2 separate regions of the Homo sapiens genome follow, and region 2 is linked to region 1. A link means that fine-mapping ties the variant in region 1 to the expression of a gene that starts in the linked region. Tissue or cell type: aorta. Region 1 holds a variant in brackets; the other region holds the start of a gene. All regions are shown on one strand. Distances are from middle to middle.

Region 1 (2,687 bases):
CATTGTAGTCAAAAAGTCAAAACAACCCAAATGTCCATCAGTACGTAAATGGATAAAGCAAATGTGATATTGATATATACATATGTATATACAATGTACTATTATTCAACCATAGAAAGGAATGAAGTACTGATATATGCCACAACATGAGTGAACCTTGAAAACACTATGCTAAATGAAAGAAGCCAGACACGAAAGGTCACATGTTATAGGATTCCATTTCTATGAAATATCCAGAATAGGTAAATCCCTAGAGACAGAACAAAGATTGGTGGTTACCAGAGGTTGAGGGGAGAAGGGAAAGGGGAGTCACTGTTAAATGGGTGTGGGGTATCCTTTTGCGGAGATAAAAATGTTTTGGAACAAGATAGAGGGGGTGGTTGCAAAACACTATGAATGCACTAAACGCCACTGGAATTATGTAAACTTCACCTCAATAAAAAAATTAGTATCAAAATTTTTGAAATTTTATGAAAAAGAATATTGCTTTCCCCTATCTTCTTTCAAGATCCTTCTAAATTATAAAGATGGCAGGGAAAGGAATCAGAACATTCTGCCCCAGAATATAACTCTTTAGCATGTTAATTATTTAGAGCTGAAGGCAACTGAGAAACAGCAGATGCAGGAAAGGCTATCTACCCTCCCTCTTTCTGCCTAAAATTAGGGCATAAATTTCCCGTGAGAAAGGCACCTTCCTGGTACCATCAGAGATGGGATAGTCAACACCAAGATGAGTTGACACAAACAAACCTTAGTAAAATAACCCTCATCTTTCATTAGTTTCCCCCGCATATTTCCTAGTCACTTTCCCACAATTTTTTACCCCTAGAAGTCTAAACCCCTTCCTTTGTGTAGTCACTTTTCCACAAGGTATTACCCTTTGTTATAAGAGCACTAAGTCCTTAACACTGCTTTTTTGAGGGTTTCACGTCTTTCCTATGAACTCCCCCACTGCCTGTTGCCTGTGCCACATACAAACATCAAATAAAATTTGTATGCTTTTTTCTTTTAATCTGTCTTTTATCAGCTTAATTCACAAGCTCCAGCTGCGGACTCTATGAGGATTTTTTACTCCTGTACAGCAACAAAGAAATTCTCCTTCAAACTGCTTTGCCAAGATTTCAAACTCCATTTAAATAAGGATTTTAAGATGAGAAAACAAAATATGTCATGGAAAGAAAAATGTCTGCATGACTGAA[G/A]ATTCCTACCTCTCACCATGCCAAGGTCTGGACACCACATCTGTAAATCTGTGACTTATTTTCACTGGAATGTAACTATTATTAACTTTCCAGATTTAGCCAACATGATGTGTGATTTATTATGAGACTATTTTTAAAGCTCTAAATAAGTGAATTTTATCAAACATAGCATTAAACACATAAAATATAATAAAAGAAAACAAAAAATTTATTTTGCCAACCAGGGTATAACTTCATAGTTCTTATTTGACTCTTTGAGAACAATATATGATTACCAACTGTAGAAGTACTTTTTTCTACTATTGGCAATCTTTCAAAGCAATTTTTGGAGAATCTCAATTAACCTCCTAAATCTAAATATCCATCAGTATGTACTGTCATTCTAAAATGGCAGGCTACTCTATATGACATGAAGTCTCCACTATGGTACTTCTGGATATTCCAGTAAATGTTGAAACTAAATTTCTTCCCCATTGCCCCTGGTGCTAATACTTGTCACTTTTTTTTTTTTAGTAGTTTTACTGATGTAATTCAAATACCATGCAATTCACCCATTTAAAGTTGTTTATATTCACAGGGTTGTACAACCACTACCACTATCCAGTTATAGAACATTTTCATAACTCCAAAAAGAAACCCCAAAATCCATTAGCAGTCACTCCCCTATCACCTCTTACCACTATTCACTCCAGCCCAATACAATCTTTAATCTACTTCCTGTCTCTATGGATATGCCTATTCTAAAAATTTCATAAAAATATAATCAACTTGATAAAGAAAAAAATAATAATCATGCACTATGTGGTCTATTATGACTGGCTTTTGTCACTTAGTGTAAGGTTTCAAGGATCTATGTTGTAGCATGTATCAGCACTTGATTCCTTTTCGAGCCAAATAATATTCATTGTAAGGACAGACCACATTTTATTTATCTATTTATCAGATGATGGTTGTTTGGGTTGTTTCAACTTTTTTGTTATTGTGAATAATCCTGAATGAACGTTCATGTACATTGAACATTCATATACATGAGCACTGTACATTAAATGAGTGAACATTTTGTTCAAGTGAGTTTATGTGTGGACACAGTTTGGTTCTCTTGGGTACTGATATCTTCACTCTTATTCGCAACCTTAGTTGGACATTGTGGCGATTTTTAATCTTGACACTCATCCTATTCAACCGATCCATCCTGCTAAATTATATGGAGGTATATGAGCTCAGGTACTACATGAGAATGTGGTCACTCTGCTGCAGTTAAGGATATACCAAGTAAAAAAGAGAATATCAAAATCTAAATTTACATAAAAGAGTTTATTAAACTTCAGGGAGAAAACAGAACTAAACATTTGGATCAATTTTTATGAATGACAAAGAATATGTTACCAAGTTCCCAATGTGAGAGATAAATACAAAATACCTGAAGAACTATGAGAGGAAGAGGAGAGGAGGAGGAAGAACAGAGTAGGGGGACAGGCGGGGGAGAAG
Region 2 (2,687 bases), 50 kb after region 1:
GTCACAGAAAAAATTAGCACAGCGCCTATAACATTAGGCACTTTTGATATAAGATAACAACATTGACAGCTTATCTATAAAATGTGTGAGCTGACCTAGGTTATCCTTAAGATCTCTTCTCGCTCATATTCTATGCCCCTGTAAGAATAGGGACCAGAAATGTCAGAAAGGAGTGTCCCCTCCAGCCATCCCTTGAACAAATGACAGCCTCTAGGAGGCAATTCTTTGATGATTAGCAGGACGGGAGGCTACGCGGCCTGGGCCCTGTCCCCGTTACAGGGTGTCTCCCTTCACCTTCACCACCGCCACCCCTTATGCCAGCATTGTCTGAGCGCCTACTGGGTGCCGGAACCAGCCTCGGCCCTTGGAGGCTCACACGGACGGGGAGGGGGCAGGCAACACTCACTTGTTCCTGCGGATCCACTCGATGAGGGCGCGCACCTCGGGCACCTCGTCCAGGGCGGGGGGTTCGCCGGTGCTAAACTGGTCGGGAAAGCTTCGGTTGAGGTCGCGGCCGCGACTATTGTCGCGGCCGCTGGCCCCGGACGGGCCGCCGTCGCCGAAGCCACAGTCGCCCTCGCGGGCACGCTCGAAGCCATCGGGGTTGAGGCTGGGCAGCAGGTACACGTCGGTGGTGTTGAGCAGGCGGACCAGGCGCGGGTCCCCGCGGCGGTAGCCGGCCGCCAGCTCGCGGGCCAAGTAGATCAACACCTGGCGCGACACGGTCTCGTCGCCATGCATGTTGCCCACCAGCTTCACCTGGGGCCGGCCGGGCAGCAGCGGCCCCGCAGCGTCGGGCCCGGCAGCGTCAGGCCCCGCGTCGCCCTCAGGGATTAGCGACCCCAGGCCGGCGGTGAGGCGAAGCACCCACAGCGGCCGGCCTTCCACCGAGCGGCCGATGCTAAAGAGGCGGGCCAGGCCGGGGAGGCCCGCGGCCGCCGCCTCCCTCAGCGCCGACTCCAACTCCTCTTCGTGGTAGTAGCGGTCGAACTGGCCCTCGGCCGCCTCGGCGCCCGCGCTCGTAGTTGTGGTAGTCGCCTCCGCCTTCTTGATGTGAGCCGCCCGGGCCGAGCTCCCCAGCAGCAGCAGGCACATGAGCAACAGGAGCCGCCCTAGCCGCCAAGGCGGCCGCTCGTCCCGGCCGCTCGCCATCTTCCAGCAGCGCCGCTAACCCCGGCTCCGCTCCCGCGGCTCAGCGCTCCGGGCGGCGGGGGCCCGCCGGATCCCCTCCTCGCCTAGCAACCCCATCCCGCCCTCTGGCCGCAGCCAATCGCGGACGGGCCTGGTGGAGCGTCACCACCAGGGGGCGGGGCTTCCCTTAAAGCAGCCGATTCCCTCTGGGCGGGCCTGCCCTCCTCCCGTCCGGGACGAGTTTGGTCACTCTCTTCCTTCGCCAAGGTTCTTCTTCTCTTCTCCTCCTCCTTGTTTCGTCTTCTGCGTGTGCTCCGCTTCTCGCTTAGTCTCTTCTTTATGGCTTCTCCCCTAAATTATCACCCATTTTTCTCTGAGAACTCCTGCTAGTTCTCTTCCCATCTTTGTTGCTGCCTTTCTCAGCTGCGCTTTAATGCTTAGAACCGAGAATGGAAAGAATCAAAAGGTTCGAAAGAATCATAAGACTAGAAAAAATCAATAGGTTCGAAAGAATCTTCGTTCGGACACTCAAAGCCTTAGCCCAGTCTCCTAGGCGCCTTGTCTCCGCATCCACCCCGCCTCCGCTGGAGCCCCGCTGTCCGCGTGCGGTTGCACGGGACGCCTCGTGGGGAGGAAGGCTCGCACCTCACTAGGCGGTGCATTCATTTTTAGAGTTGCTTTCTGGAAAGGTGTCTCTTTTATGCCTAGCGGAAATGTGCTACGTAGTAGGCTCCCTTTGTGTTAATGTTGTCTATTTCTTAGGCGTCACCCCACGTTGTTTTACTGCAAATAGGTCCCTGTGTGTGCTGGCCTCGACCCTCATTAGGCAGATTTCATTTCACAGCTCACCGGCCCACTTCTCCCACCTCATCGGAGCAAGTTGTATATTTAACTGTGCCCTGGAATGACATATTTTAAAACAGCAGGTTTGACATTTCTGGAAACACTTGCTTGGCATTCCTGAACTCCTCAGTGTCAGCCAAAGATGGCAATTACAGCGTTTCATCAAGTCTAGAGAAGAGGTCTTTTAAATCACCTTTTATAGGCTTTAGTTTCTTTAGCTTGAAGAAACCCAAAACTATCCCTTAATCGAATGCGAAATTCTACCCATCTAACAACATAATCGCAATAACCGGCATTACCTTCTTTCAGAGCCAGCTATTTCAGGGCCCCTTCCCTGAACTATGACTGAACCCTACTTTAATAGAGTTCATTCATTCGTCAAGTATTTATTGAGCAACTTTTATGTCAAAGCTAGATGCTGGGAAACAATTCATTCTTCTGCCCAGTCAAGAGATTCAGTGTAGTTTGTGATAAATGCTACAACAGAGGGGGTACAGGTGAGGGAAATATCTGAACTTGAGGAGGAGGAAAGGAGGAGAGAAACCATGGAGGATGGGAAGGATCCCAGGCAGGAGGAGAAGCAAGCAAAGAAAGCCGCAGGATTTGAGAACAAATGCCTTGTGTTCTGGGAATTGCATGCAGGGTCAGGATTACTGGTGTGAAGGGGCTCACAGGCCAGTCTTCAGGGAGCACATTTGATCTGGAAGGCCATG

Alleles and levels. Positions count from the first base shown, and alleles are read on the strand shown. Sizes are in standard deviations (SD) of each study's normalised expression.
In carriers of allele A in region 1, the expression in aorta of the gene that starts at base 1,206 in region 2 tends to be higher than with G alone (large effect, 1.0 SD a copy in GTEx).

What was found. PIP is the estimated chance that this variant, and not a neighbour inherited with it, causes the effect.
Region 2: CPD starts here. The variant in region 1 is fine-mapped to the expression of CPD in aorta (GTEx, PIP above 0.99).

Annotation. Positions count from the first base shown.
Region 1 is chr17:30,427,906-30,430,592 of GRCh38, reverse strand. All of the region lies in intron 7 of CPD (carboxypeptidase D), which reads right to left. Among named protein-coding and RNA genes, the nearest start is that of GOSR1, 48 kb to the left of the region's middle. The variant G/A (reference allele first, on the strand shown) is at 1,200.
Region 2 is chr17:30,377,446-30,380,132 of GRCh38, reverse strand. It overlaps CPD (carboxypeptidase D), which reads right to left and starts at 1,206. Exons shown (of 21, transcript NM_001304.5): 1 at 407-1,206. The coding sequence starts at 1,152. RefSeq lists silencers at 731-860, 1,161-1,400 and enhancers at 378-1,305, 1,451-1,620.